Linked DNA regions of Homo sapiens: region 1 is linked to region 2. The links come from fine-mapping of genetic effects on gene expression. A gene starts in region 2. The other region holds a variant in brackets. All regions are shown on one strand. Distances are from middle to middle.

Region 1 (15,556 bases), 28 kb before region 2:
GTGAAACCCCCCTCTACTAAAAATACAAAAAAAAAAAAAATTAACTGGGCGTGGCAGCGTGCACCTTTAGTCCGAGCTGCTGGGAAGGCTGAGGCAGGAGAATGGCATAAACCCAGGAGGCAGAGCTTGCAGTGAGCCGAGATCGCACCACTGCACTCCAGCCTGGGTGACAGAGCAAGACTCCGTCTCAAAAAAAAAAAAAAAAAAAAAAATTAGCTGGGTGTGGTGGTGGGTGCCTGTAATCCCAGCTACTCGGGAGGCTGAGGCAGGAGAATCGCTTGAACCCGGGAGGCAGAGGTTGCAGTGAGCAGAGATCTCAACAGTGACTCTGCATTTGCCCCCAAGCCTGCCCACCCAGCCCTGGCAACCACAAATCTACTTTCTTTCTCTATAGATTGGCCTATCCTACACATTTCCTATAAATGGAATCATATAATATATGGTCTTTCGTGACTGGCTTTTTTTTTTTTTTTTTGAGACAGTCTTGCTCTTGTCGCCCAGGCTGGAGTGCAATAGCATGATCTCAGCTCACTGCAACCTCCACCTTCCGGGTTCAAATAATTCTCCTGCCTCAGCCTCCCAAGTAGCTGGGATTACAGGCGCCCACCACTACACCCAGCTACTTTTTGTATTTTTAGTAGAGACAGAGTTTCGCCATGTTGGCCAGGCTGGTCTCGAACTCCTGACCCCGTGATCCTCCCGCCTCGGCCCCCAAGGTGCTGGGATTACAGGCGTGAGCCACCGCCCCCGGCCAGTGACTGGCTGCTTTTATTCAGCATAATGTTTTCAAGATTCATTCACAGTGCAGCATTTATCAGTACCTAATTCCTTTTGATTTTTTTATTGTGGTAAAATATATGTAACATAAAATTTATCCTTTAAACCACTTAAATGAACAGCTCAGTAGCATTAAATATATTCACATTGTTGTGCAACCGTCACCATCATCCACTTCCAGAATTTTCCTCACCTTCCCAAACTGAAACTCCATCCCCATGAAACACTCACTCCTCATTCCTCTTCCCCACAGCCCCTGGCACGCACCATTCTACTTTCTGTCTCTATGAATTTGATTACTCCAGATACCGCATATAAATGGACTCATATAGTATTTTTTCTTTTGTGACTGGATTATTTCATTCAGTATAATGTTTTCTTTCTTTCTTTTTTTTTTTTTTTGAGACGGAGTCTCGCTCTGTCGTCCAGACTGGAGTCCAGTGGCACCATCACAACTCACTGCAGCTTCAAACTCCTGGGCTCAAGCAATCTGCCTGCCTCAGTTTCCTGAGTCACTGGACTACAGACATGCTACCGTGCCTGGCTAATTTTTTTTTTTTTTTTTTTTGAGATGGAGTCTTGCTCTGTCGCCCAGGCTGGAATGCAGTGGTGTGATCTTGGCTCACTGCAACCTCTGCCTCCCGGGTTCAAGTGATTCTCCTGCCTCAGCCTTCCGAGTAGCTGGGATTACAGCTGCGTGCCACCACACCTGGCCAAGTTTTTTTTTTTTGTTTTTTTTTTTTTTGTATTTTTAGTAGAAACAGAGTTTCACCAGTTGGCCAGGCTGGTCTCGAACTCCTGACCTCAAGTGATCCACCCACCTCAGCCTCTCAAAGTGCTGGGATTGCAGGCATGAACCATCATGCCCGGCCCCTGGCTGATTTTTTGTTTTATTTATTTATTTGTTTATTTATTTATTTTGAGACAGAGTATCGTTTTGTTGCCCAGGCCGGAGTTCAGTGGCATGATCTTGGCTCACTGCAACCTCCTCCTCCCAGGTTCAAGCGATTCTCTTGCCTCAGCCTCCCAAGTGGCTGAGATTACAGTCATGCACCACCATGCCCAGCTAATTTTTGTATTTTTAGTAGAGGCGGGGTTTCAAGATGTTGGTCAGGCTGGTCTCGAACTCCTGACCTCAAGTGGTCCTCCTGCTTCGGCCTCCCAAAGTGCTGGGATTACAGGCCTGAACCATTGCACCTGGCCAACTTCATTCCTTTTTAAGGCTGAATAATATTTTGTGTATGTATGTTGTGCTTTTTATGGCTGAATAATATTCTATTATAATGAACGTACCATAAGTTGTTTACCCACTCATCAGTTGGTGAACATTGGGGTTTTTCCACTTTGGGGCTATTATGCATAATGCTATGAACATTCGCATATAAATCTTTGTGTGACATATGTTTTCGTTTCTCTTGGGTATATACTGAGGAGTGAATATATGATAACTCTATGTTTAGCTTTTTGAGAAAGGGCCAGACTGCTTTCCAAAGCAGCTGTACCTCTTTACATTTACACGAGCAAAGCACAACGGTTCCAATTTCTTTATTTTATTTTATTTCATTTTATTTTATTTTATTTTATTTTATTTTATATTTTTGAGACAGGGTGTCTCTCTGTCCCCCAGGCTGGAGTGTAGTGGTGTGTTCATGGCTCACTGCAGCCTCAACCTTCTGGGCTCAAGTGATCCTCCCGCCTCAGCCTTCTGAGTAGCTGGGACTACAGGTGCGCACCACCATGCCTGACTAATTTTTTACATTTTTTTTTTTTGGTAGAAATGGGGGTCTCACTATGTTGCCTAGGCTAGTCTCAAACTCCTGGCCTCAAGTGGTCCTCCCACGTCAGCCTCCCAAAGGGCTGGGATTACAGGTTGAGCCACCACACCCAGCCAAGGGTTCCAATTTCTTTGCCAACACTAGCTTCCCGTCTTTTTTAATTATAGCCACCCTAGTGGGTGTGAAGTGGCATCTCATAATTTGATTTGTGTTTCTCTGATGACTAATGATGTCAAACATCTTTTCATGTACGGTACTTATCGGCCATTTGTAGATCTTCTCTGTAAAAATGTGTATTAAGACCCTTTGCCTCTGTTTTTATTTTTCCTTTTTCAACTTTTTTTTTTTTTGAGATGGAGTCTGGCTCTGTTACCCAGGCTGGAGTGCAGTGGCACCATCTTTGCTCACTGCAACCTCTGCCTCCCAGGTTCAAGCAATTCTACTGCCTCAGCCTCCCGAGTAGCTGGGATTACAGGCGCCCGCCACCACACCCAGTTAATGTTTGTATTTTTACTAGGGACGGGGTTTTCACCCTGTTAGTCAGGCTGGTCTCGAACTCCTGACCTCAAGTGATCCACCCACCTTGGCCTCCCAAAGTGCTGGGATTACAGGCATGAGCCACTGCGCCCGGCCCCAACTTTTCTTTTTTCCTTTTTGGAGACGGAGTTTTGCTCTGTCTGTCACCAGGCTGGAGTGCAGTGGCAGGATCTTGGCTCACTGCAACCTCCGCCTCCCTGGTTCAAGCAACTCTCCTGCCTCAGCCTCCCGAGTAACTGGGACTACAGGTGCACTCCGCCACGCCAGCTAATTTTTTTTTTAATTATTTTTTATTTTTAGTAGAGATGGGGTTTCACCATGTTGGTCTTGAACTCCTGACCTCAAGTGATCCACCCACTCAAAAGTGCTAGGATTATAGGCATGAGCCACCACACCCGGCCTCAAATTTTCTTTTAGAATCAGAAGGTACATGTGCAGATTTTTTATGAGGTATATGGCGTGGTGCTGAGGTTTGAAGTATGACTGAACTCAGGTACTGAGCATAGTGCCCAAAAGGTAGTTTTTCTGCCCTTGTCTCCCTCTCTCTCCTCTCTATAGTCCCCAGTGTCTATTGTTACCATCTGATATGTTTTGGCTGTGTCCCCACCCAAATCTCATCTTGAATTCGCACCTGTTGTGGGAGAGACCTGGTGGGAGGTAATTGAATCATGGGGGCAGGTCTTTCTCCTGCTGTTCTTGTGATAGTGAATAAGTCCCAGGGGATCCAATGGTTTTAAAAATAGCAGTTTCCCTGAAAAGCTCTCTTTGCCTGCTGCCATCCATGTAAGACGTGACTTGCTCCTCCTCGCCTTCCACCATGATTGTGAGGCCTCCCCAGCTACGTGGAACTGTAAGTCCATTAAACCCTTTTTCCTGTATAAATTACCCAGTCTTGGGTATGTCTTTATCAGCTGTGTGAAAATGGACTAATACACCATCTTTGTGTTCATATATACCCAATGTTTAGCTCCCACTTATAAGTGAGAACATGCAGTATTTTATTTTCTATTTCTGTGCTAGTTTGCTTAGGATAATGGCCTCCAACTGCATTCATGTTGCTGCAAAGGACATGGTTTTTCTTCCTTTTTATGGCTGTGTAGTAGTCCATGGTGTATCCATACCACATTTTCTTTATCCAAACCACCATTGATGGGCACCTGGTTTAATTACATGTTTTTGTTATTGTGAATAGCATTGCAATGATCAGACAATTTGCCCATGTTTTGATTGGGCTATCTTTATATTGTAAGAGTTCTTTATATTTCTGGGAAACTAGTCTTTTATCAGATATATGATTTGCAATTTAGTTCCCCTCTGTAGGTTATCTTTATTCTCTTGATGATGTCTTTTGAAGCACAAACGTTTTTTATTCTATTTTGGTGAAGTCCATTTTACCTATTTTTTCTTCTCTTGCTTGTGCTTTAGTGTCCTATCTAAAGAACAATTTTCTAAATCAAAGTCACAAAGATTTATTTATTTATTTATTTTTTGAGGCAGAGTCTTGCTGTATTGCCCGGGCTGGAGTGTAGCGGTGTGATCATGGCTTCCTGCACCCTCCACCTCCCGGGTTCTAGTGGTTCTCCTGCCTCAGCCTCCTGAGTAGCTGGAATTACAGGTGCCTGCCACCATGCCTGACTGATTTTTGTATTTTTAGTAGAGACGGGGCCAGGCTGGTCTCGAACTCCTGATCTCAGATGATCCACCCACCTCAGCCTCCCAAAATGCTGGGATTACAGGTGTAAACCACTGCACCTGGCCCACAAAGATTTACTTTCTTTTTTTTTTTTTTTTTTTTGAGACAGAGTCTCGCTCTGTCACCCAGGCTGGAGTGGCGATATCTTGACTCACTACAACCTCTTCCTCCGGCTTTCAAGTGACCCTCATGCCTTAGCCTCCCAAGTAGCTGAAACCACAGGTGTGTGCCACCATGCCTGGCTGATTTTTTTGTATTTTTAGTAGAGATGGGGTCTTTTTATGTTGCCCAGGCTGCTCTCAAATTCCTGACCTCAAGTGAGGGAGGTCTGCCTGGGCCTCCCATAGTGCTGGGATTACAATTACAATTTCTTTTTTTTTTTTCTTTTTTTTTTTTTTTTTGGTGAGACGGAGATTTACTCTTGTTGCCCAGGCTGGAGTGCAATGGCGCGATCTCGGCTCACCGCATCCTCCACCTCCCAGGTTCAAGCGATTCTCCTGCCTCAGCCTCCCGAGCAGCTGGGATTACAGGCATGTGTCACCACACCTGGCTAATTTTGTATTTTTAGTAGAGACGGGGTTTCACTGTGTTGCCCAGGCTGATCTTGAACTCCTGACCTCAGGTGATCTGCCCTCCTCGGCCTCCCAAAGTGCGGGGATTACAGGCATGAGCCACTGCGCCCAGCTGATTACAATAACTTCTAATCTGCTTTGTCTCACTACAGGTTACCCTACATTTTCTTGAATTTTACGTAAATGAATCATATAGTATATACTTTCTGGGGGGCTTTTTTACTCACAATTATTATTATTATTATTTCAAGACAGGTTCTCACTCTGTCACCAAGGCAGGAATACAGTGGCACAATTACGACTCACGGCAGCCTCGACCTCCTGGGCTGAAGCAATCCTCCCGCCTAAGCCTCTCGAGTAGCTGGGACTACTGCCATGCACCACCATGCCTGGCTGATTTATTTATTTTTATTTTTTATAAAGGTATAATCCCACTATGTTGCCCAGGCTGGTCTTGAACTCCCGGGCTCAAGCTGTCCTCCCATGTCAGCCTCCCAAAGTGCTGGGATTACAGGTGTGAGCCACTGTGGCTGGCCCATTCCCCAATCATATGCTGCATTTCCACACCTCTTCTGCCTTAGCTCAAGACGTAGTTTCACCTAGAATGCTCTTCCTCCCGGCTGGGCGGGAGAGAACCAGGAGTTTGAGACCAGCCTGGCCAACATGGTGAAACTCCATCTCTACTAAAAATACTAAAATTAGCCGGGTGGTGGTACACACCTGTAATCCCAGCCACTCGGGAGGCTGAGGCAGGAGAATCGCTTGAACCTGGGAGGTGGAGATTGCAGTGAGCCGAGATTGCGCCACTGTACTCCAGCCTGGGTGACAGAGCAAGACTCCATCTAAAAAAGAAAAAAAAAAGAAAACAGAAAAGAAAAAAGAGAAAGGAATACTATTTCTCCCAATGTCTGATCCTAAAGCTGAAGGTTGTTGTAGAACTGACTCATCCTTCTCATCCTAGCCTCCACTTCCCCTCATGCACAGACTGAATCAGTCCTTTCCCGGCACGCTCCCTCACAGCTCTGATGCCAGCCTGCCCTGTACTGGAGTTCTTAGAGACTAACCTGTCCCCACTGTTAGACCAGAGGTCCTCTGAGGGCAGGGATGGCATTTATGTCATTTCTCCAGTTCCAGCTTCCAGCTCAGGATCTGTCACACGGCAGGTACAGAGAGCCAGGACACCAGGGCTCAAATTCCAGCTCCGCCGCTTACGGCCAGTATGAACCTCAAATGACCCAACCTCCCTGTGCCTCTGTCTCTTCTTCTGTAAAGTGGGGGAAACACACTCACTTCATCTGGTTGTGGAAGGGATTAAATGATTAACCCACATAAACAGCTTAGCAGGTGTGGGCGGGACCCTGGCAAGTAGTAAGTGTTTGGTAAATGTTAGTCAGAAGTGATACTGGGGGGCCGGGCGCGGTGGCTCACGCCTGTAATCCCAGTACTTTGAGAGGCCGAGGCAGGCGGATCATGAGGTCAGGAGATCGAGACCATCCTGGCTAACACGGTGAAACCCCGTCTCCACTAAAAATACAAAAAATTAGCCAGGTGTGGTGGCGGGCGCCTGTAGTCCCAGCCACTCAGGAGGCTGAGGCAGGAGAATGGCGTGAACCCGGGAGGCAGAGCTTGCAGTGAGCCAAGATTGAGCCACTGCACTCCAGCCTGGGAGACACAGCGAGACTCCATCTCAAAAAAAAAAAAAGAAGTGGTACTGGGGTCAGGCATGGTGGCTCATGCCTGTAATCCCAACACTTTGGGAGGCCGAGGCACACGGATCACCTGAGGTCAGGAGTTCAAGACCAGCCTGGCCAACATGGAGAAACTCCATCTCTACTAAAAATACAAAAATTAGCCAGGCGTGGTGGTGGGTGCCTGTAATCCCAGCTACTTGGGAGGCTGAGGCAGGAGAATCGCTTAAACCTGGGAGGTGGAGGTTGCAGTGAGCCGAGATCACTGCACTCCAGCCTGGGCGACACAAGTGAAACTCTGTCTCAAAAAAAAAAAAAAAGTGATAGTAACTTGTTGGGTCGAAGAGAGACTGCCCTAGGTATAGGTACTCTTCATATGAAGGGGAAGATACTTTATATTGATCTTCACAGCCAGGCACAGTGGCTCACACCTGTAATCCCAGCACTTTGGGAGGCCACGGCAGGAGGATTGCTTGAACCCAGGAGTTCAAGGCCAGCCTGGACAACATGGTGAGACCCTGTCTCTACAAAAACAAACAAAAATTAGCTGGGCGTGTTGGAGCCTACTAGTGATCCCAGCTACTCAAGAGGCTAAAGCAGAATGATCACTTTAGCCCAGGAGTTCAAGGTTGCAGTGAGCCATGGTGGACCCACTGCACTCCAGCCCAGGCTAAGAAGTGAAACTCTCTTTCTCAGAAAAAAAGAGGAGACCCTCCATGCCTCTCCACCTCCATTAAAGTCAGGGAGCACTCCACCAGAGGCCCCCTAATCCACCTCCCTTCCTTTCCAGCATCAAAGTAACCATGAAAATCTTCCTCCTTCAGAAAGCCCTCCAGGATTGCACTGCCTCTAGGAACTTCTTCTTTCTGCCTCTTCTCTTTGATGCCCTGTGACCACAGCTGAGTCCTGCACCCTACTTCCTATCTTCCCCCAGCTCTCCTCTTCCTCTGCAAGGGATACAAACAAACATCTCTGGACCACTTTCAGGTAGACCTGAGGTTTTTCACAGGGTGTAGCTGGAGCTAAGAGCATTCATGAGAGAGAGCATCTTTTATATTTTTATTTTTTAGAGACAGGGTCTCACTATATTGTTGCCTAGGCTGGTCTCAAACTCCTGGTGTCTAAGCGATCCTCCCACCTCAGTATCCCAAAGCGCTGGGGTTAGAGGCATGAACCACCATGCCCCACTGGAGAACATCTTATTCATACCTCCCTGCCTCTCCTGTTTTACATATGGGTAGGGTCAACCCAGGATGCCCAGTTAAATTTGAGTTTTAGATAAGCATTATGAATAATCTCTTAGTATAAGTATGCCACAAATATGGCATGAGACATACTTATACTAAAAAAAGCCATTGTGTATCTGAAATTCAAATTTAATGGGGCATCCTGGATTTGTATTTGCTAAATCCACCAACCCTATGTATGGGGAAACTGAGGCCCTGGGAGATGGAGTATCAGTATCATGCCCAGTTGCAGAGCCAGTCAATGTGGTGGTGGCTCAAGCCCCACTTCCTTTACACACACACACACACACACACACGCTGACTCTGGGTCCTGGCGCTGGCCATGAACAGGTGTCTGTCCAAGGTAGCAGACTGAAGCCTACTAGTAGGAGGTCACGTGACAAGAAACTCATGCAAGACAGGAAACAGTGGGCAGAGAAGGCCAAGCTGACCCACCAGGACGTATGAGGCAGGTGGAAGAAGCAGGAGGTGTCTTCATCTGCTTCCTTCTCAAGATGCACCCTTCCACCACCACCGCCCACCCTCAGGCAGAGTGAATTCCAAATGGGGTGTGGGGCTGGGCGCAGTGGCTCACACCTGTAATCCCAGCACTTTGGGAGGCCGAGGCAGGCAGATCACTTGAGGCCAGGAGTTTGAGACCAGCCTGGCCAACATGGCAAAACCCCATCTTTACTAAAAGTACAAAAAAACTGGCCGGGCGTGGTGGCATGCACCTGTAGTCCCAACTATTTGAGAGGCTGAGGCAGGAGAATCACTTGAACCCAGGAGGCGGAGGTTGCGGTGAGCTGAGATTGCACCATTGCACTCCAGCCTGGGTGACAGAGCGAGACCTTGTCTCAAAACAAATAAATGGTGTGTGGGCAGAATCTGATCAACTCAGGGTCTCTTCTGGGCTCGGGCTCAGCCTCATCCTCCGGCATGCCCCCGGCCTTCCCCCTGCGCTCTACCTCCTGCCATCACCAGGGGACTCTGAGGGGCATTATTGGCAGGATCCCTTCTGCCTCTGCTGCCCCCCGCTAGCCGTAGAAGGAAGGAAGCCCGTGGGGCTGGGAGGAAGCTGCCTCATTGCTGGGTAGGGTGGCTGTGAAAGCCCTTTCTTCTTTCCATCCCACACTGCCCGCTCCTGGCCGAGCGGTGGCCAGGGGGATCCTTCCTTCTACCCCACACGGCCCCTTGAAGCTGGCAGGCAAGCTGAGGTCCTGAATGCCCCCTTCCCAGGTGGTGCCTACTCCACAGGACCTCTGAGGACTTGGAGGCATCCATCCTGGACTTTGAAACTGATACCACCGCTGGCCTATCCCGCTCTCTCACTGGGCTGCTACGCCAAGGGTGTTTAAGGATGTTTGTGGAGTAAATGTAAGAGTCTGGGCCAGGCCCAGTGGCTTGCACCTGTAATCCCAGCACTTTGGGAGGTCGAGGTGGGAGGATTGCTTAAGACCAGGAGATAGAGACCAACGTGGGCAACATAGTGAGAACCCATTGCTTAAAAAAAAAGAGTTGAGAGGACACAGCACTAAGAGCAAGAGAGGGGAAGTCAGTGGGCCCCGGAAGGCAGGAAGGGCCTCAGGGAGGGGTGAGGAATGGGGGCTCAGGGAGGGGAGTGGGGTTTAGGGAGGGGATGTGATGTCAAGGGCAGGGAGGGTGGGGGCTTGAGGGGGGACTCAGAGGGAGCATGGGATGAAGCTGGTCAAAGAGGGAATGAATGGGGCTCAGTGAGCCAGATGAGAGAGAGACAGGAGATAGACAGTGAGAGAGAGAGAGAGACAGAGACAGAGGGAGAGACAGAGAGGGAGAGGAGAGGAAGAGAGAGGGGGGGAAAGGAGGGGGAGAGACAGAGTGAGAGACAGAGAGAAGGAAAGAGAGAAGAGAAAGGGAGAGAGAAGGGGGAGAGGGAGTGAGAGAGGGAAAGAGAGAAAGGCAAGGGGGGAGAATGAGAGAGAGAGAGAGGAGAGAGAGGGAGAGAGAGAAAGAGGAGGGGGTAGAGACAGAGAGAAAGTGAGAGAGAGAGAGGAGAGAGAGAGGGAGAGAGACAGAGTGAGAGAGAGAGGAGAGAGAGGGAAAGGGGGGAGAATGAGAGAGAAAGAGAGAGGGGGGAGAAAGAGAGGAGGGGGGAGAGAGAGAAAGTCAGAAAGTGAGAGAGAGAGGAGAGAGAGGGAGAGAGACAGAGTGAGAGACAGAGAGAGGAGAGAGATGGAAAGAGAGGGAGGAGAATGAGAGAGAGAGGGGGGAGAGAGGGAGAGAGAAAAAGAGAAGAGAAAGGAGAGAGAGAGGAGGGGATAGAGAGAAAGTAAAGGAGAGAGAGAGGAGGGTGGGAGAGAGAGAGGAGAGCCAGGGTCAGAGGGAAAGAGAGAAGACAGAGGGAGAGAGACGGGGCAGGGAGAGACAAGGGACAGAGAGACAGTGTGAGAGAGAGAGAGAAAGAAAGAGGAGGGGGAGAATGAGAGAGAGAGAGGAGAGAGGGGGGAGAGTGAAAAAGGAGGGGAATAGAGAGAGAAAGAGAAAGTGAGAGAGATAGAGGAGAGAGACAGAGTGAGAGACAGAGAGAGAGGAGAGAGAGAGGGAAAGAGAGGAAGGGGGAGAATGAGAGAGATGAGAGAAGGGGGAGAGAGAAGAGGGGGTAGAGAGAAAGTGAGGGGAGAGGGAGAGAGGAGCCTGGAGGAGAGAAGAGAGAGGGAGAGGAAAGGGAGGGGGAGAGAGAGAAAGAGAGAAAGCGGGGAGAGAAGAGAGTAAGAGTGAGGGATGAGAGTGAGAGAGAGTGCTGGGGGGACTCAGGGACTAGGAGGAGGTTCAAAGCCGGGCTGGGGCTCTGGGAGGAGCCCGAGGCGGTCCCAGCGTCTTTCTCTGCCCACCTGGGGTGGCCCCACACCTGCGGCTCCTCCCTCCCCGAGCCCAGCCCGCGGCTGGGGGCCGGGCACCGAGCCCCCGGGGAAAGTAGAGGGGGTTAAAGGTGAGCGGGCACGAGCCGGCGGCAGACGGGGATTGGCAGGCGCCCGAGCCCAGGGCCCGGGCCATGGCTGCCCCACAGGCCTCTGAGCGGCTGAGCGGCTGCCGCCCACGTGCTAAGGAGAGAAGGAGGCACCAGATCAAGGGGCAAAGGACACCTCGGAGCGGGGCGGGGGTGCCCGCGTCCACACCCGCTGCTAAAAGCCGGGCCCGCGGCGCAGCGCACGGAGCCCTCTGCCGCCCGCGCGGAGAAGGCGCCGGGCGCGGTCCGGCGGTCCCAAGCATCCCCGCAGCGCCCCCGCCGCCCGCCGCCCGCCCCTGGCCGCGCCGCGCCCCTCTGCAGGTCGAGCGGATTCCAGGTGAGGGCGTGGAGCCCCCGCGTCATCAGGTGGGTGCAGGGGCCTCACCCAAGGGGAATTGGATCCGCCTCTGTGCTGGGCCTCA[G/C]TTTCCCCTCTGCCCATAGAGGCGCGCGTCTCTGGCTCAGCTGGGTTGAAGGGGTTCATAGGCTTATGTGGCCTCCTCGCTCAGCCTCAGCTGCCAGGAGGAAGGAGGCAAACTCGTACCCCAGGGAGGACTCCGGATCAGGAATCCAAGAATTCATCCTGCTAGAAGGTGAAGTGCACACGGGTCCTGGAAGCCCCGTGTCTCCCACTGGCTGGACTGGGCTGGGCTTCCATCCTGGTCTGGGAGGTTCTCCCAGGAGCTGAGAGGGGGCCCAGGGAGTCAGGAGGGAGGGCCTTCCTCCCTCTGGCTCTCCCTGCCCTGGGCAGGTGACATGCCAGTGGAGAAACCCTGTCCAGGTGGGCCCTGGGATGAGGAGGACCAAAACTGCCCCTGGCTGGGACAGAAAGAAGGGAGATGGCAGGGTGGGGTATGTGGATTCTGGCCCCTAGGCTTCTAGCCAACAGGTGGGGGCCACAGAAGTGGTGGCCGGCACTCCTGCTGCTCTGCCCAGGGGGGAAAGCCAGGGCTTCCTCCCAGCCACCCTGCCCCCACCTCTGGGCTGGGTTTGGGAGCTTTGGGTTCTTGTCTGTGTCTGACTGTGTGACCTTGGGCGCACGACTTTCCGTCTCTGGGCCTGGCTCTCCCTCCGTGACATGGGAAGGTTTACTGTTCCTGGGCCACTCGTGTGGAGATGGGGACAGAGTAAAACGGAACACCAGGTTGCTTTGGGGGACAGTGTGGCCCACTCCAACCAAGTCCCTCTGGGCCTTCACAAGGGGGATGGTGTTACAGGGTCAGCTGAGTCAGGAAGTCAGGGGGACCAGGGATCTATGAGAGCTGAGCTGGTCCCCACTTTGCCCAAGAACTTATCTTACACTCAGCAACTCCCCTGCCCCATGTCCTGCCCAGGCCCTCAGATGCAGGAGAAGTCTCAGAATACAGGTCTGGGAATCTCAGGTCCGCCCCAGGGAAGCTCAGCTCCTCAGCCTAGGGTAGCTTCTGGGAGAGGAGGAAGATTCTGTAATACCAGAAGAGGTCTGAGCTGTAGTAGCCAGGAGTTTCCCCATCTTGAGAAGATGACCCATCTCACTTCTCCCTAATTGCCCCCTAAGGACACAGTCTGCTGGCTGAGCCAGGCCAGGGCTCAGTTTAGAATCAGGGTTGGGGCTCAGGCTGGGGTTGGGACTCAGCCTGGGGACCACATGGGAGGGCAGCTCAGAGCCAGGGTCCAGGAAGCATCCGCCTGGTGTCTTGGAATCCTGTGATTGAAATCCTCTGGCCGATATAGGGGTGGCACTGGTGGAGATGATGTTTGTCAGCTGAAGTGGAGGGCTGGCATATGAGCTTCTGCAGGCTGTAGAGTGGGATGGAAGAGTGGACTGGAAGCGTGGAAGTGGGAGAGGTCATGTCTCCGAGGCTCCTGCAGCCACACTTGCCCAGAGTCTCTAGTGCCTTCAGGCAATGGCCCTCCCTGGGTACCCTCCCCGGGGCTGTCTTTGGCCCTGCTGCCAGCCCTGTGGTGGCTAAATGCAAGCTTAGACATGTGTTGGGTTTGTCAGGGGCTGGGAGAGGCCATCATTAGTGCAGTCCTCACTCTCTGGTTAGGGCCAAAGAAAAAGTTTTGGCTACAGATGTGGGGCAGAGGAGGGAAGAGAGAGGGGACGTGCAGGCTTAGGATTGCTGTTCAGATAGGAGAAGAGGAAGAGGAACTGGGGTTTGCTATGCATTTACTGCAAGCCAGGCACTGCACAAGCTTTTCTGGCACTGTTTCCTTCTTCCTGATAACCAGAGAAGGAAAAGATCTCCATTTTACAGATGAGGAAACAGGCTCAGAGAGGTCAAGGCTCTGGCTCAAGGTCACACAGCCTGGGAACGGCAAAGCTGATATTCAAACCCAAGCATCTTGGCTCCAAAGCCCTGGTTTCTGTTCCCACTACTGTCAGTGACCTTGGCAAGCCCTGTCCTCCTCCGGGCTTCACTCTGCACACCTGTAACCTGGGGTTAAATGGGCTCGCCTGGACTGTTGAGCAGAGCTGGGAGGAGGTCTGGAAGCAACATGGGTGGTGCATTCTCTGCATTCAGGGAGAAACACACAAGAGGGGATTACATTGGCTGACCCCCAACCTCCCAGGTCAGCTCATGGGTGTCCATGTGTCCTGCGCCCACCTCACCCACCTCCACCCCCTCCCCACCCATCTTTCTCACTCCTGAAACTTAGGGGCAAGGTGGCTCTGTCTCTCCTCTTTGAAGTTAGCTAAGCTGACCTTGGAGAAGGGGGCCCCCAACAAGGGAAGAGTGAACAGAATATTCCCAGGGTAGGTCCTGGCACTGATAAATAAGAGACAGACAACTACTGCCCTAGGGCCAGAGGCAGTGGCTCAAGCCTGTAATCTCAACACTTTGGGAGGCCAAAGTGGGAGGGTTGCTTGAGGCCAGGAGTTCAAGACCAGCCTGGACAGCATAGAAAGATCTGTGTCTCTGCAACAAATTAAAAAATTAGCCAGGTGTGGTGGCACAGGCATATAGTCATAGCTACTCAGGAGGCTGACACAGGACGATCACTTGAGACCAGGAGTTTGAGGCTGCAGTGAGCTATGATGTCACCACTGCATTCCAGCCTGGGCAACAGAGCAAGAACCCCTCTCTTAAAAAAAAAAAAATGCTCTACCCAGAATCCCAGGCCACCCCCTGCTAGCTGGCTTGGGTAGTCACAAAAGTTCTTGTCCCATATTCAGCCCCATTAGCAGTGTGACTTTGGGCGAGAGATATGCTTCCTGGGATCCACTTTCTATCTCAGTCCAGGGGCCTGATGCCCTGATGGGGCCGGCATGGGGCCAGTTATCCAGCAGGGGAGAGGCCAGGAGATTCTGGGCAGAGCAGATGACTGTCACCTGCTGCAACAGTCTGAGAAGCGTTTTCCATCCCTGAGTCCCCTGGAGGAGATTGTCGCCCTATCTTCTTTGTCCTACAGCTCCTGGTTCTCTGACATTGTAATCAGAGATGTCGACCAGGAAGGAAGGAAAGAAGAAAGGGCGGGCTGGGGGGAGGAAAAGAGGGACAGAAGAAGAAAACCCACATTTACCAGGTACCACTGGCTCTCACTTACATATTTCATTTCATCTTTGCAACAACTGCACAATAACATCACATAGTCATAGCCATTTTAAAGATGAGAAAACCGGCAAGGCACAGTGGCTCGTGTCTGCAATTTTAACACTTTGGGAGGCTGAGACGGGTGGATCGTCTGAGGTCAGGAGTTCAAGACCAGCCTGGCCAACATGGCAAAACCCTGTCTCTACTAAAAATACAAAAATTAGCCGGGCATGTTGGCGGGCACCTGTAATCCCAGCTACTTGGGAGGTCCTAAGGCAGGAGAATCACTTGAAGCCTGGGGGTGGAGGTTGCAGTGAGCCGAGATCAAGCCACTTCACTCCAGCCTGGGAGAAAGAGCTAAACTCAGCTTCAAAAAAAAAAAAGACAAAACCAGTCCTCAGCCAGGTGCAGTGGCTCACATCTGTAATATCAGAGCTTTGGGAGGCCAAGGCAGGAGGATTGCTTGAGACCAGAAGTTTGGGACCAGTCTGGGCAGCCTAGTGAGACCCTGTCTCTACAAAAAAATTAGCCAAGCATGGTGGCACAAGCTTATAGTCCCAGCCACTCAGGAGGCTGAGGCAGAAGGATTGCTTGAGCCCAGGACTTTGAGACCAGCCTGGGCAACATAGTGAGACCCCCCATCTATATAAAAATTTTTAAAAATTAGCCAGGGGTGGTGATGCACACCTGTAGTCCCAGCTACTTGGGAGGCTGAGGCGGGAGGATCACTTGAGCCAGGAGTTCAAAGTTGCAGTGAGCCATGGTGGTGCCGCTGCACTGAAGTCTA
Region 2 (15,941 bases):
GCAGTGAGCTGAGATCATGCCACTGCACTCCAGCCTGGGTGACAGAGCAAGACTCCGTCTCAAAAAAAAAAAAAAAGTATTCCCTAGTGTGACTGTTCTGCAATGTATTTATCCATTCACCTGTTGATAGGCATCCGGGGCATCTCCAGTGTTGGGCTAGTAAGATCAGTGCTGCCACGAATAGTCTTGTGTTTTGGTGCACATGTGTGCACACTGCTGGGTTCTAACTAAGGTGGGAGATGCTCAATGCTAGTAGATGCTGCCAAATACCTTTCCAAAGTGATTTTGCCTCCACTGGCAGGAGCAGTAGATGAGTGTCTGCTCGTACCACATCCTCCTGCACAATGGCCAGCCCTTTGAGTTTGAGAACATAGGTACTTGTGGAACAGGCTGGCATTCAATTGTCTGCGTTTGAATCCCAGTTCTCTTCTTATCATGTGACCTTCAGCAAAGGTTGTTTTCTTATCTGCAAAATGTGTTGAAAATCAAAGGGTAGGCCGGGCACAGTGGCACACGCCTGTAATCCCAGCACTTTGGGAGACCAAGGCAGGAGGATTGCTTGAGCTCAGGAGTTCAAGACCAGCCTGGCCAACATGGCAAAATCCCATCTCTACAAAAAATACAAAAATTAGGTGGGCATAGTGGCACACGCCTGTAGTCCCAACTACTCGGGAGGTTTAGGTGGGAGGATCACTTGAGCCCAGGAAGCAGAGCTTGCAATGACCCAAGATCATGCCACTGCATTCTGGCCTGGGTGACAGAGTGAGTGAGACTCCATCTCAAAAAAAAAAAAAAAAAAAAAGACAAGCTGGCCTGTAATCCCAGCACTTTGGGAGGCCGAGGCGGGCAGATAACGAGGTCAAGAGATCGAGACCTTCCTGGCTAACACAGTGAAACCCCGCCTGTACTAAAAGTACAAAAAATTAGCCGGGAGTGGTGGCGGGCGCCTGTAGTCCCAGCTACTTGGGAGGCTGAGGCAGGAGAATGGCGTGAACCCAAGAGGCGGAATTTGCAGTGAGCTGAGATCGTGCCACTGCACTCCTGCCTGGGAAACAGTGCAAGACTCCGTCTCATAAATAAATAAATAAATAAATAAATAAATAAATAAATAAAAATAATAAAAAAGACAAGCCAAGGGGCTGTTGTGAAGATCCTGCGGACCTGCTAGGTGGTAAGTGCTCCATAAAGGTTAGCTTTATATAGCTAATTCTCACCACAATCCGCCAGATCATTTCACCTCTCAGAGTCTCAGTCTCCCCATCTGTAAAATGGCAATGAAAATTCTAACACACCCACATATACACACAGTTGACAGGCTCACTAGTAAATGGAATAATTTATGAACGTGCCTTTTAGTTTTTAAGAGACAGGTTCTCACTCTGTCACCCAGGCTGGAGTACAGTGGCATGTTTATAGCTCACTGCAGCCTCCAACTCCTGAGCTCAAGCGATCCTCTCACCTCAGCCTCCCAAGTAGCTGGAACTACAAGACCACAAATAGCTAATTTTTTAATTTTTTGTAGAGACAGAGTCTTGCTATGCTGTCCAGGCTTGTCTCGAACCCCTGGGCTCAAGCAATCCTCCCCTTGGCCTCTCAAAGTGCTGGGATTACTGGCATGAGCCACCACGCCCAGCAGTGATTCTTGCTCTCAAGGAATTTGCCATCTAGTGGGGAGGAAAAGCACGTGCGTCATCACTGTGAATGCAAAGCTGAATGAAATTAGACTTATATTAGAACAAGGGTGGTGCGGCCAGGCACGGTGCCTCACTCCTGTAATTCCAGGACTTTGGGAGGCTGAAGAGGGTGGATCACGAGGTTAGGAGTTCAAGATTAACCTGACCAACATGGTGAAACCCCGTCTCTACAAAAATACAAAAATTAGCCAGGCGTGGTGGTGCACCCTTGTAATCCCAGCTCCTCAGGAGGCTGAGGCAGGAGAATCGCTTGAATCCGGGAGGTGGAGGTTGCAGTGAGCTGAGATCACGCCACTGCACTCCAGCCTGGGCGACAGAGCAAGACTTGGTCTCAAAAAAAAAAAAAGAAAAGAAAAGAACAAGGGTGGTGGGAACTCAGAAATAACCTGGAGAACTTGGGGAAGATGTCATAGGTGGGACTTCAAGGACAGGTGGGCTTTCCCAACAAGGAAGGGCAGGCTGGGTGAAGAGCCCTGAGGACCAAGACTGGAAGGCAGAGAGGATGTGACATCAGGTGGGATGGCTGGGGACAGCCAGGTATTCACACCACAGTTAGGATCTTGTCTTGCATCTCCATGGACCATGAACAAGACTTGTTTGTACAGAGGCTGTAAACTGCTGGCTATAGTAACAGAGGCTAGAGAAGCAGCAAGAGCGTGAGCCAGCTTACATGTACATGGCTGTGCTATTATCTGGGCAATGGTGCCCTGAACAGGGGGTGCGGCGCCTGTGGTCCCATTACAAGTGGCTCACACTTCTAATCCCAACACTTTGGGAGGCTGAAGTGGGAGGATCACTTTGGCCCAGGAGTTTGAGGCTGCAGTGAGCTATGATTGTGCCACTGCACTCCAGGCTGGGTGACACAGCGAGACCCTGTCTCTAAACACAGGAGAAATCAGAATCTGTGGACGTCCTTGCATTTATTGGACACTCTAGTGTTTGGATGTTTTGCATTGTGCAGTCAGGGTTTGTCTTTTCAGCGGTTAGGCTTCTAGAGGTGTTATTAAGCCCTGGAGGAGGGCAGAAATGAGATGCAGATGCCTGTTGAGGGGCAATTCATGGCTGGGGAAGGAGGGATGTTGGGTGAAGGAGAGAATTCACTCATAATCTTCCCACCCGCTCAGATCCAGCTCAGAGGAAAGTCCCTGAAACCGCAGGAGACAACTCTGATGTTTTCAGAGCATGGGGAGAGCACGGTGGGGTGATCTGGAGACACGGCCAGCAGAGACTTGGAGCCAAGATTCCTGGATCCCCAACAAATCACTGAATTCAGGCCAGGCACAGTGGCTCATGCCCGTAGTCTCAGCACTTTGGGAGGCCGTGGTGGAAGGGTCGCTTGAGCCCAGGTGCTCGAGACCAGCCTGGGGAATATAGTGAGACCTCATCTTTACAACAGCAAAAAGAAGAAGAAAGAAAGAAAGCACTGAGTTTGGCCCTCAATTTTACAGGTAGTGAGACAGATCGCCAGTAAGACAGAGAGACAGAGATCTCCCCAGTGTTACTCATGGAATTAGCAGCAGAGCAAGGATCAATTCCGGTCTTCACCTGAGCCAGGGTCCCCGGAGCCAGGAGGTCCCAAGCCAGAGGCGAGGGCGGAGCTGACACTTCCTATCCAACCTCCTCCACAGCACCCCACCCGCTCCTCTTAGTCTCATGCCCCTTTCTTCAAGCATCCCCCAAGTCTCCAGGTACCCAGTGTGGGGGTTCAGAGATGCTAGGACACAGTCTTGCCTCAATGGCCTACGGAGGAATAGGGGGAGAAGCCAGACAGGCATATAGGGGTAAGTAATGATCCTGTCAGCCTCTGTACCAAGGGCCTCAAAAGACGGTTAACTGCCACCTGAGAGCTGGCCACGGTGGCTCACGCCTGTAATACCAGCACTTTGGGAGGCTGAGGCAGGTGGATCACTTGTGGTCAGGAGTTCAAGACCAGCCTGGCCAACATGGTGAAACCCCATCTCTACTAAAAATACAAAAATTAGTCGGGCATGGTGTTACACGCCTGTAATCCCGGCTACTTGGGAGGCTGAGGCAGGAGAATCGCTTGAGCCCGGGAGGCGGAGGTTGCAGTGAGCTGAGATCATGCCACTGCACTCCAGTCTGGGTGACAGACTGAGACTGGCTCAAAAAAAAAAAAAAAAAAGAGGGCCACTTGGGGATGGCTCTCTGAAGCAGGGCAGAGCCCCTCCAAAGGAGGGAGAGTGGGGTGAGCATCAGAACCCCCTTTCCTAACCTGGCAGGGATGGGCAGAGAGAATGCACATCCTACAGAGGGCAGCAGGGAGGATGGAGCAGAACAGCTGGGGCTCCTGGGAATGTGATGCGAACATTTGGCAGAGACAGAAGATACCCGGCCAAGGGAGGTGGGTGGAAGGGCTGGCCTGTGAGCAGCCTTGGATAATCACTTTCCTCCCACAGCCAGTGGCTGGGGCCCTCAGGGCACTGCCATTGTGATCCTAGGTGCTGTGTGATCCTCCTGTGGGCTGGAAGAAAGTGCTGCATGTCAACCTTTTCCAAGGCTGCCACACATGGGAAACCACCTCCTCCGCTTTCCCTAACATGACCACACACAGGATACCTGTCAGAAAGCCAGCAGAGCTTAGCATGTGCCTACAACTCTTTCCTGTCCCCACCCACTAGGGACATCCTTGGGGGAAATCTGGAAATCTACTAGACCAGGCTTTGCTGCTGCCCCTCAGAGATGCTTGGGTGTGTTTTTGCTCTCCTGTGCCTCTGAACCCATCTTTGAGGCTGTTAGTTAAACGCTCCAGTGAGGTGTCAGGTGTGAATGCCTCAGTCTGGTTTCTGTCCTCAAGGTGAGAAAAGAGGCTTCAGAAGCAGAAAGGCCATGTACAGTGGCTCACACTTGTAATCCCAAAACTTTGGGAGGCTGAAGCAGATTTCATCTCTACAAAAAAAAAAAAATTAGCCAGGTTTGGTGGCATGAGCCTGTAGTCCCAGCTACTAGGGAGGCTGAGGTGGGAGGATCGCTTTGGCCCAGGAGTTTGAGGCTGCAGTGAGCTATGACCGTGCCTCTGCACTCCAGCCTGGGTGACAGAGCGAGACCCTGTCTCTAAAAATATATAAATAGGCTGGGCACGGTGGCGCATGCCTGGAATCCCAGCACTTTGAGAGGCTGAGGTGGGCAAATCGCTTTAAGGTCAGGAGTTTGAGACCAGCCTGGCCAGCATGGAGAAACCTCGTCTCTACTAAAAATACAAAAATTAGCTGGGCATGGTGGCGGGCACTTGTAATCCCGGCTACTCAGGAGGCTAAGGCAGGAGAATCGCTTGAACCAGGGAGGCAGAGGTTGCAGTGAGCCGAGATCGTGCCATTGCACTCCAGCCTGGGTGACAGAGTGAGCCTCCGTCTCAAAACAATAAATAAATAGAAGTATATAGATAAATAAAAATACAAAGAAGCAGGAACAAAAGCTGGACCTCAGTGTCAGTGAGAGAAGGGGCTCAGAGCTCCTGGGTAGATGCCTGCCTAGGGGATGTCCACCTTCCAGTGAGCCACCCATCCCTACCAGTAACAGTCCCTCGAGGCTCCCCTTGGGCCTCTCTGTGCAGGTGAAGTAATGATCACAATTTTTTTAATATATATTTTTTCTTAAGTATTTTATTTTGTTTTTGAAACAGGATTTCACTGTTGCCCAGGGTGGAGTGCAGTAGGGCGCGATCTCGGCTCACTGCAACCTCCACCTCTTGGGCTCATGTGATTCTTCCACCTCAGCCTCCCGAGTAGCTGGGATTATAAGCCAAGCACGCATCGTCACATCCGGTAATTTTTGTATTTTTAGTAGAGAAGGGGTTTCTCCATGTTAGCCAGGCTGGTTTCGAACTCCTGGCCTCAAGTGACCCACCCACCATGGCCTCCCAAAGTGCTAGGATTGAAGGCGAGAGCCACCGCGCCCGGCCACCGTGTTGGCCACCATGTTAACTAGAGGTGTTAGCAACCTCCTGTGGGCCAGGCCCTTCAGGGGCATTACCTTGGGCTTACCACATCAGGCCCCTGAGAGTTGGGGGCTTCTACCTATGTGGAGGACCCAGAAGAGCTAATATGGGGGGCGGGGGTTGGAGGTGAAGGGCAGGAGTTAGGTGAGGGGAGATGGTGATCTCTGGCCTCACAGGAGGGTGCCCCTGAAAGAACAAACCCCAGGTCCTGAGGCGCTTTCAGGCTCAGGTGTGATAGGGGACCCTTTTGTTGTGGAGACAGGGTCTCACTCTGTCATCCAGGCTGGAGTGCAGTGGCGCGATCTCCGCTCACTGCAGCCTCAACCTCTTGGTCTCAAGCGATTCTCCCACTTCAGCCTTCGGAGTAGCTAGGACTACATGCACACGCCACCATGCCTGGATAATTTTTGTATGTTTGGTAGAGACAGGGTTTTGCCATATTGTCGAACTCCTGGGCTCAAGGAATCCTCCCACCTCAGCCTCCCCAGTAGCTGGTATTACAGGCTTTCTCCACTATGTCCGGCTAATTTTTGCATTTTTTTGGTAGAGATGGGGGTCTTGCCATATTGCTCAGGCTGGTCTCGAACTCCTGACCTCAAGCCATCCTCCCGCCTTGGCCTCCTAAAGTGCTAGGATTACAGGCAAGAGCCCCTGGCGTCCGGCCTGACCTTTCTTAATATCCCTTTGGAGCAAAGTAGGGGCGGCTCTATCAGGACTCCAAGGAAAGACGGGAAGGGAGATGGGGCCAACCCGCCAGAGCTCCAGAGCACCGGGTTCTCACCTGGCGTAAGGATTATGCTAATACAAGCCCCGCCCCGTCCCAGGCCCCGCCCACCCGATCGGCCTATGGTGTGGGGGCGGGGCTATGTTAATGAGGCCCGGCTGGCCAAGAGCTGTTCCCCGCGCTGCGCGGAGCAGGGACCAGGCGGTTGCGGCGGCGACAGCCATGGCCGGCGCGCTGGCAGGTCTGGCCGCGGGCTTGCAGGTCCCGCGGGTCGCGCCCAGCCCAGACTCGGACTCGGACACAGACTCGGAGGACCCGAGTCTCCGGCGCAGCGCGGGCGGCTTGCTCCGCTCGCAGGTCATCCACAGCGGTCACTTCATGGTGTCGTCGCCGCACAGCGACTCGCTGCCCCGGCGGCGCGACCAGGAGGGGTCCGTGGGGCCCTCCGACTTCGGGCCGCGCAGTATCGACCCCACACTCACACGCCTCTTCGAGTGCTTGAGCCTGGCCTACAGGTGAGGGCGGTTCCGGGCCCTGACGGCCTTGGCTTCCAGGTGGGGATGGGGGGGGGGTCCGGGGCAGGACTGCGCGCTGGGGCCCTCAACACCCCACCCGAGCCCGGTCCTGCGGCTCCCGGAGGCTCCGATCACGCCCTGGACACCCCCTTTCTCCCAGCCCCGAGGTCCTCCTACAGCGGCCCAGCCCGCTGGCCCCTGACGGACCCACGCATTTCTGATTCCCATTCCTCCCCCATTCCCTCTTCCCCGAAGCGCAGACCGCCTGCGCCCCACCTCTACCTGGACCTCTGGTCCCCTCTCTCTGGTCCCAGCCCCTCCGTCCCTACAAAAATGCCAGGCGCCCCTGGTCCCTAGGCCACCCGCGCCCATCCCCACTCTCCACTCTGGAGCCACTCCACCCGACCCCCTGCAGGCCTCGGCCTTCTCCCCAGCAGCCCCGGCCCAAGCCCGCCCTATTCCTGGACCCTGAGATACTCCCAGCGCCCCTGATTGTCCCAGTTCATAACCAAAGTGGACTGGAACTGGCCCACTCTCACGTCCACCTCCCCGCAATTGCTGAGACACCTCTTCTTGATCTGCTACATTAAGGGTGGCGGGAGGAGGATGTCCCAGAAATGTCCAAGAGGCGCAGCTCGCAGAGGTTACGCCGGTGCCCGGGAGGCCTGGGTTCGCCTACCCACGTCGCCACACTAGGCTGAGCGCCCGTCGCTGCCTGGGACCCCCGCTTAGTGCCACCGAGAGCGCACAGGCCGCGCCCCGCTGCCGCTCCACGCCCCGCGTCCCAGAGGAGGGCGCGAACCCGAGGCCTGGCCCAGTGCCCTGGAGCAAAGTTCCCCGGAGTTGAGGGGCCAGTATAAATTATCAACCGAAAACCCGTAGGGGAGAAAGGGGGATCGGCCGGCCTTGATCTTTTCTCTGTGCAAATATTCCTCTTCCTCCGCGGCGCCTCCTCCCCTTCTGAGAACCGCTGGCTACAGATCGGCACCTGCCGCCCTGCGGGGGAGCAGGAGCTGGGGTGGGGACTGTGAGGGGAGTGTTGCCTGCCCCCAACCGCAGCCGCCCAGCTGCGACCCCATTGGCTGGAGGCGGAGTAACCTTGGCCCACAAGCTCTGGCCCCTGGCCCAGGTCATGTTGCAACCCGATCGGCCAGGGCGTCGGACCCGTGTGGAAAGTTCAAATTCCCGTCCCTTCTCCCTCCCTCCCCAAATGTCACGCGACTGCCTGGGACAGGGCATCTAAGGTCCTGGTACACCGGATGCCGGCACTCCTCCTCCTAAGGGTCTCCCATTTCCCACCCAACCCCAACTTTGGCTGCTCATTATATACTACACATCACTCTATTTGGGAGGGGGCCTCACTTCCAACCCTGACGATGGGTGACCAAAGAGGAGAGGTTCTGGGGAGCTGGCAAGGTAAGGGACAGAGCGCACCCCCAAAATTGCCCCCCCACCCAGAGGCTGACTCAAGGCTGATGTAACCCCAGTCAGAGATAGCTGGGGTAGAGAGGACTGTGTTTTCTTCCCAAATACCCAAATATTAATAGTAAATCTCTGGCTGGGCACAGTGGCTCCTGCCTGTAAGCCCAGCACTTTAGGAGGCCAAGGTTCTCATCCAAGGATTGCTTGAGCCCAGGAGTTGGAGACCAGCCTGGGCAACATACTGAGAACCTGTCTCTACCAAAAAAAAAAAAATTTTTTTTTTTTTTTGAGACAGAGTTTTGCTCTTGTTGCCCAGGCTGGAGTGCAGTGGTGCCATCTCAGCTCACTGCAACCTCTGCCTTCCGGGTTCAAGAGAATCTCCTGCCTCAGCCTCCTGAGTAGCTGGGATTACAGGCGCCCACCACCTCCAGCTAATTTTTTGTATTTTTAGTAGAGACGAGATTTCACCATGTTGGCCAGGCTGGTCTCAAACTCCTGACCTCAGGTGATCCACCTGCCTTGGCCTCCCCAAGTGCTGGGATTACAGGCATGAGCCAACATGCCTGGCCAAAAAAAATTTTCTTTAATCAGCCAGGTGTGATGGCACATTCCTAGTACCAGCTACTGGGGAGTCTGAGGTGGGAGGATCACTTCAGCCCAGGAGGTTGAGGCTCCAGTAAGACATGATGGTGCCACTGCACTCCACCCTGGGTGATAGAGTGAGACCTTGTTGGAAGGAAGGGAGGGAGGGAGGGAGGGAGATGGGGGGAGGAAGGAAGGAAGGGAGGGAGGGAGATGGAAGGAGGGAGGGAGATAAAGGAGGGAGGGAGATGGAGAGAGGGAGATGGAGAGAGGGAGATGGAGGGAGGGAGGGAGATAGAGGGAAATGGAGGGAGGGAGATGGAGGAGGGAGGGAGAAGGAGGGAGGGAGGGAGATGGAGGGAGGGAGACGGAGGGAGATGGAGGGAGGGAGAGGGAAGGAGATGGAGGGAGGGAGGAAGGGAGAGAGGGAGGAAGGGAGGGAGGGAGGGAGATGGAGGGAGGGAGGGAGCTGGAGAGAGATGGAGGGAGGGAGGGAGATGGAGGGAGGGAGGGAGATGGAGGGAGATGGAGGGTTGGCTCGGTACCAGGAGAGCTTCTAGATTTCCCCATTTGGTAGTGGAAAAGCCCTGAGGCTTGAACTGGGACAGTGTTTTCATCCTCAAAGACCCCCAGTTCCAGGGGTCCCCTGGAGGGGAGCAGATTACAGGAGCTGAGTGTCCCAGGGGAGTGACTATATGGGAAGAGACAGTAAGGCAGAGAGTTCAGAAGGTGGTGGGAAGAACAGCGAGCTTGACCAGGGACCCACCTGAATCAGGGACCAGCCTGACCCAGAGACCAGCCTGCAGAGGCCTGGCAAGGTTTCACCCTCTGCAGGTTAGCGTGGGCAGAGGGAGGATCGAGGAGGCCGTCTTCCATGGCTCCGTGGGTGGAAGCCCCAGGGAGGTAGTTTCTGGAAGCTTCAAGGAAGCACTTGTTCATGGTCAGAGCTGGCTAGCTTTAGGAAGAGTGGCCTTGAGGGTGCAGGGGAGCAAACAGGACCTGGTTAGGGGGCAATCTAAAAGGAATTCCTGAAAGGTGGGAGGTGGGCAGCTGAACTTGGGGTTTTCTCAACCCCCTCTCTAAGTCTCAGAGTTTTCTTCTCCTTCTTATTATTTATTTATTTATTTATTTATTTATTTATTTTTGGAGACAGAGTCTCACTCTGTTGCCCAGGCTGGAGTGCGCTGGCATGATCTCAGCTCACTGTAATCTCCGTCTCCTGAGTTCAAGCGATTCTCATGTCTCAGCCTCCAGAGTAGCTGAGGTAACAGGCATGTGCCACCATCCCCAGCTAATTTTTAATTTTCAGTAGAGACGAGGTTTCACCATGTTGGCCAGGCTGGTCTCGAACCCCTGACCTCAAGTGATCTGCCCACCTCAGCCTCCCAAAGTGCTGGGATTACAGGTATGAGCCATCGTGTCCTGCCTTTTTCTTTCTTTTCTTTTTTTTTTCTGAGACGGAGTCTCACTCTGTCGCCCAGGCTGGAGTGCAGTGGCGCAATCTCAGCTCACTGCAACCTCCACCCAACGGGTTCAAGCAATTCTCTGCCTCAGCCTCCTGAGTAGCTGGGATTACAGGCGCCTGCCACCACATCCGGCTTTTTTTTTTTTTTTTTTTCAGTACAGGTGGAGTTTCACCATGTTGGCCAGGCTGGTCTTGAACTCCTGACCTTGTGATCCACCCGTCTCGGCCTCCCAAAGTGCTGGGATTACAGGTGTGAGCTACTGGGCCCAGCTCTTTTCTTCTTTTAATAGTTTTTGTTGTTGTTGTTGTTGTTTTTTGTTTGTTGTTGAGACAGAGTCTCGCTGTGACACTCAAGCTGGAGTACAATGGCATGATCTCGGCTCACTGCAACATCCGCCTCCTGGGTTCAAGCGATTCTCCTGCCTCAGCCTCCCGAGTAGTTGGGATTACAGGCACGCACCACCATGCCCGGCTAATTTTTGTATTTTTAGTAGAGACGGGGTTTCTCCATGTTAGCCAGGCTGGTCTTGAACTCCTGACCTCAGGTGATTCGCCTGCCTTGGCCTCCCAAAGTGCTGGGATTATAGACGTGAGCCACCGCGCCTGGCCCTATTAATAGTTTTAAATAGAGATAAGGTCTCACTGTATTGCCCAGCTGGTCTTGAACTCCTGGGTTCAAGCGATCCTCTCCCCTCAGCCTCCCAAAGTGCTTAGGTTACAGGCCCACCACTGCTCCTCATCAGACTTTTCTATTGGTCATAACAAGTTTTTGTTTTGTTTTGTTTTGTTTGTTTGTTTTTTGAGACGGAGTCTTGCTCTGTCGCCCAGGCTGGAGTGCAGTGGCGCGATCTTGGCTCACTGCAAGCTCTGCCTCCCGGGTTCACACCATTCTCCTGCCTCAGCCTCCCGAGTAGCTGGGACCACAGGCACCTGCCACCACGCCCAGCTAATTTTTTGTATTTTTAGTAGAGACCGGGTTTCACTGCGTTAGCCAGGATGGTCTCGATCTCCTGACCTTGTGATCCACCCATCTCGGCCTCCCAAAGTGCTGGGATTACAGGCTTGAGCCACTGCGCCCAACCAGAATTTACTTGTTTTTTATGAGTCGGGTTCCCACTCTGTTGCCCAGGCTGGAGTGCAGTGGTGTGATCACAGCTCACTTCAGCCTTGAACTCCTGGGCTCAAGCGATCTTCCCACTGCAGCCTCCTGAGTAGCTGAGACTAGAGGTTTGCACCACCATGCCCAGCTAACTTTTTTTTTTTTTTTTTTGAGATGGAGTCGCTCTCTGTCGCCCAGGCTGGAGTGCAGTGGCACAATCTCGGCTCACTGCAAACTCCGCCTCCCGGGTTAACGCCATTCTCCTGGCTTAGCCTCCCAAGTAGCTGGGACTACAGACGCCTGCCACCACGTCCGGCTAATTTTTGTATTTTTAGTAGAGACGGGGTTTCACGTTGTTAGCCAGGCTGATCTCGAACTCCTGACCTCAGGTGATCCACCCACCTCGGCCTCCCAAAGTGCTGGGATTACAGGCATGAGCCACTGTGCCTGGCCCCAGCTAACTTTTTAACTGTAGAAACAGGGTTGCACTATGTTGCCCATGCTGATCTCAAACTCCTGGCCTCCTACAGTCCTCCTGCCTCGGCCTTCCAAAGTGCTGGGATTACAGGTGTGAGCCATCCCCAGCCAGTCATAAAAAGTTCTTGAACCCTAGCGTTACGCTCTTCCTCCAGGCTGAGTCTCTTCTCTCACAGCCCCAAATCCTTTTCTTCCTCCTGGGCTTGGATATTGTCACTGTCACATCTGCTCTAACCCTGCCTGGGCCATGAACGTCATAACCTTAGCATGGAAGCGGGAGAGAAGGCAGGCAGGTCAAGGGTGCGACACGGGGTGATCAGAATGGGCTGGGAGGTTGCTGGGATACAGACAGGGACAACAGACTCAGGAGTCCCCCACCAGGTGCCACAGAAGAAGCTGGCCCAGGAGGTAGCAGAGTCTCCCCCCACCCCCACCTCCATGTCTCCCTACCAAACAGATGGTGTTTATCTAATTCTCAGAGGGAGGGGCCCAGCCAGTGGCCCAGAGAGCTGGGCTGTGTATCTTATTTGGGTAATGAGGCCTGTTGTCCCTGGTGGGGAGGGGGCAGTCCCCCACCCCCACCCCAAAGCAAACACAGGAACTTGGAGACCAGGGAGGAGAGAGGGCCCAATGACCAATGCACTCAAGTAGGGAGAGGCTGCGGAGTCAGACTGGCACCCACCCACATTTCACCCCCAGAATGTAGGAAAGACCCCTGGAGGAAGCAGGTATGGTTTTCTGAAAGACTAAGCCTTGGGGGCCAGGTGCGGTGGCTCACGCCTGTCATCCCAGCACTTTGGGAGGCCAAGGTGGGTGGATCACTTGAGGTCAGGAGTTCGAGACCAGCCTGGCCAACATGATGAAGCCCCGTCTCTACTAAAAATACAAAAGTGAGCTGGGTGTCATGGCATATGCCTGTAATCCCAGCTACTCAGGGGGCTGAGGCACGAGAATCATTTGAACCTGGGAGACGGAAGTTGCAGTGAGCCAAGATCATGCCACTGCACTCCAACCTGGGTGGCAGAATGAGGCTCCATCTCAAAAAAATGAAAAAATGGCTAAGACTTGGGGCCTCAGCCTTCCCATCTGAGATCTGAGTAAGGGATGCAAAAGGCGGGCTAGAGGGGACTGGTACACAACCCTGGCTTGTGGATGGAGACGAGAGAGGGAGGGAGAGACTAGCAGGGGGTCTAAGACCCTGAATGTCTTGGCCTCCTGGCTCAGCTTCCTGGAGGCAGAAGACTTGGCCTGTGCCTAGCAGGACCCTCACCAGTGTAAGCTCTTCCATCCAGTGGATTTTTTTTTCCTTCAAGACAGGATCTTGCTCTGTTGCCCAGGCTGGAGTGCAGTGGCGTGATCATAGCTCACTGTAGCCTCAAACTCCCGGGCTGAAGAAATCCTCTGACCTCGCCTCCCTAGTAGCTAGGACTATAGGTGCATGCCACCACACCCGGCTAATTTTAAAATTATTTTGTAGAGACAGGGTCTTGCTATGTTGCCCAGGCTGGTCTCAAACTCCTTGGCTCAAGCGATCCTCCCGCCTTGGCCTCCCAAAGTGTTGGGATTACAACCGTGAGCTACCGCGCCCAGCCCATCCTGTGGATTTGATGGACAGCTAGGGTTAGAGTGAGGGTGCTCTGTCTCCATGAATACCATTTGCTCATCCTAGCGGCCTTCCTTTGGGATCTGTTGGTTCATTGTCTTCTGTGCAGCCCTGAGAAGAGCACACCTTCTCGCTGAGTCCAGGTTGCCACCCTGGGATTCTGGGCATGGCAGACACCAAAAGGACTGTACCATGAAGGCAGTGACTGCCACTCTCTATAAAGAGGCACCCTCGGCTGGGCATGGTGGCTCACATCTGTAATCCCAGCACTTTGGGAGGCCAAGGTGGGCAGATCACTTGAGGTCAGGAGTTTGAGACCAGCCTGGGCAACATGGTGAAACCCCGTCTTTACTAAAAATACCAAAAAAATTAGCTGAACGTGGTGGCGCACAACTGTAATCCCAGCTACTCGGGAGGCCGAGGCACGAGAATTGTTTGAATCCAAGAGATGGAGGTTGTGGTGAGCTGAGATCTCACCACTGCACTCCAGCCTGGATGACAGACTGAGACTCCGTCTCAAAACCAAAAGCAAACCAAAAAAAACCAAACCAAACCAAAACAAAACACAGAGGCTCCCTCTCTACCAGGCAAACCATGGCCATCCCCTTTGCCTCTCCTGGGCCTAAGGAGGCCTGAGTGACCTCGGACCTGCCCCTTTCCTCCCTGACTCTCAGGAAGGTCTTTTTTTTTTTTTTTTTTTTTTGAGACGGAGTTTCACTCTTGTTGCCCAGGCTGGAGTACAACGGTGTGATCTCAGCTCACTGCAACCTCCGCCTCCCAGGCTCAAGCAATTCTCCTGCTTCAGCCTCCTGAGTAGCTGGGATTACAGGTGTGCGCCACCACAGCCAGCTAATTTTGTATTTTTAGTAGAGACAGGGCTTCAGTATGTTGGACTAGGCTGGTCTCGAACTCCTGACCTCAGGCGATCCACCCGCCTTGGCCCCGCAAAGTTCTGGGATGACAGGCGTGAGCTACTGCACCCAGCCCAGGAAGGTCATTTCTTATTCTCTTAAATGAGAAATGGGCCTGAGCACTGTCCCCAGCCAGCCTCCAAGACACACCTGTGAGGCCACTGGACATTGTTGCTTCCAGGGCCGAGCTGATCCACAGGTTTCAGCGTGGCTTTTGTTCTGCAGTAGACTGACAAACAGGTCTCCCCAGGGAACACAGGGGCCGCTGGTGGGAGTCTGGAAGGGGATTTTGAAGGTCTGACTCTCTGGATAGGAATTTCAGGCAGGTTGGGTTGGGGGGCCAGATTTGGAGGGGCCCCTCAAATGCCAACCATAGATGGATGCCTAGTGCATGGGGAATATGGGGACCAGCCTCTGTGGCAGCACTGCATCTCCCTAACCCTACTCCTCTCCCCTTTGACAGTGGCAAGCTGGTGTCTCCCAAGTGGAAGAATTTCAAAGGCCTCAAGCTGCTCTGCAGAGACAAGATCCGCCTGAACAACGCCATCTGGAGGGCCTGGTATATCCAGTGTGAGTGGCTACCACCAGCCTCCCAAGCCGGGAGGGACTGCCCCCTCCAACCCTCCTGCCAGAGGGTTCTACATGGTGGCTGCCCAGGAAAATCCCCGGGGTCCTCAAGGCCAGCACTAGCAGAGTTCTGCCAACCTTTTTTTTTTTTTTTTTTTTTTGAGACACAGTCTTGCTCTGTTGCCCAAGCTGGAGTGCAGTGGTGCCATCTCGGCTCACTGCAACTTCCGCCTCCCAGGTTCAAGCCATTCTCCTGCCTCAGCCTCCCAAGTAGCTGGGACTGCAGGCACCCACCACCACTCCCAGCTAATTTTTGTATTTTTAGTAGAGACGGTTTCACCATGTTGGCCAGGCTGGTCTTGAACTCCTGACCTCAAGTGATCTGCCCACCTTGGCCTCCCAAAGTGCTGGGATTACAGGCGTGAGCCACCACGCCTGACCCTGACAGCCTTTTAGGGGGAGACCAGGCCCCCAGCACCAGGACTCCTGAATAGCTCCTGACCTCCAGCGGGTCTCGGGGAATAGGTCCCAAAGGGTGTTTCCACTGTGAAGCTGGGCACAGCAGAGGTCACCCCTCAGTAGCACTAGGGTAGGCTGAGATTTGAGGTACAGTTCAAAGCCCATTTTGCATCCCATTAGCATAGTTGGGTGCCTTGAATGCGAGGGTAAAAAGGGCCATTAGACACTAGCGGGGCCAACTGCATCACTTTGTAAATGGAGAAACTGAGGATCCCGCATGGGTCTCCACCAGCCTTTCATTGAAGTCCTTCCTGAATATCCAGTAGGTGCCCACCATGGCCAATTGGGCAGAGGGGATCCAGAGAGGCCATGCCATCTCGTGGAAGGAACTCTGGACTTAGAGTTGCCCAGAGCTAGTTCCTCCACCCCGTCTCTGCCCCTTGCTGGCTGTGTGACTTCAGGCTAGTT

Direction of the effects. Alleles are on the strand shown, and positions count from the first base shown. SD is a standard deviation of normalised expression in the study named.
With allele C in place of G in region 1, the expression in lung of the gene that starts at base 6,566 in region 2 is higher (moderate effect, 0.47 SD a copy in GTEx).

The links.
Region 1: its variant is fine-mapped to the expression of MLXIPL in lung (TOPMed, PIP above 0.99). The same link has a PIP of 0.9 or more in caudate, cerebellar hemisphere, cerebellum and putamen.

What each region holds. Positions count from the first base shown.
Region 1 is chr7:73,643,810-73,659,365 of GRCh38, reverse strand. It overlaps a transcript of MLXIPL not described here. Among named protein-coding and RNA genes, the nearest start is that of VPS37D, 16 kb to the left of the region's middle. RefSeq lists silencers at 11,136-11,185, 11,226-11,295. The variant G/C (reference allele first, on the strand shown) is at 11,677.
Region 2 is chr7:73,615,147-73,631,087 of GRCh38, reverse strand. It overlaps MLXIPL (MLX interacting protein like), which reads left to right and starts at 6,566. Exons shown (of 17, transcript NM_032951.3): 1 at 6,566-6,888; 2 at 14,911-15,017. The coding sequence starts at 6,596.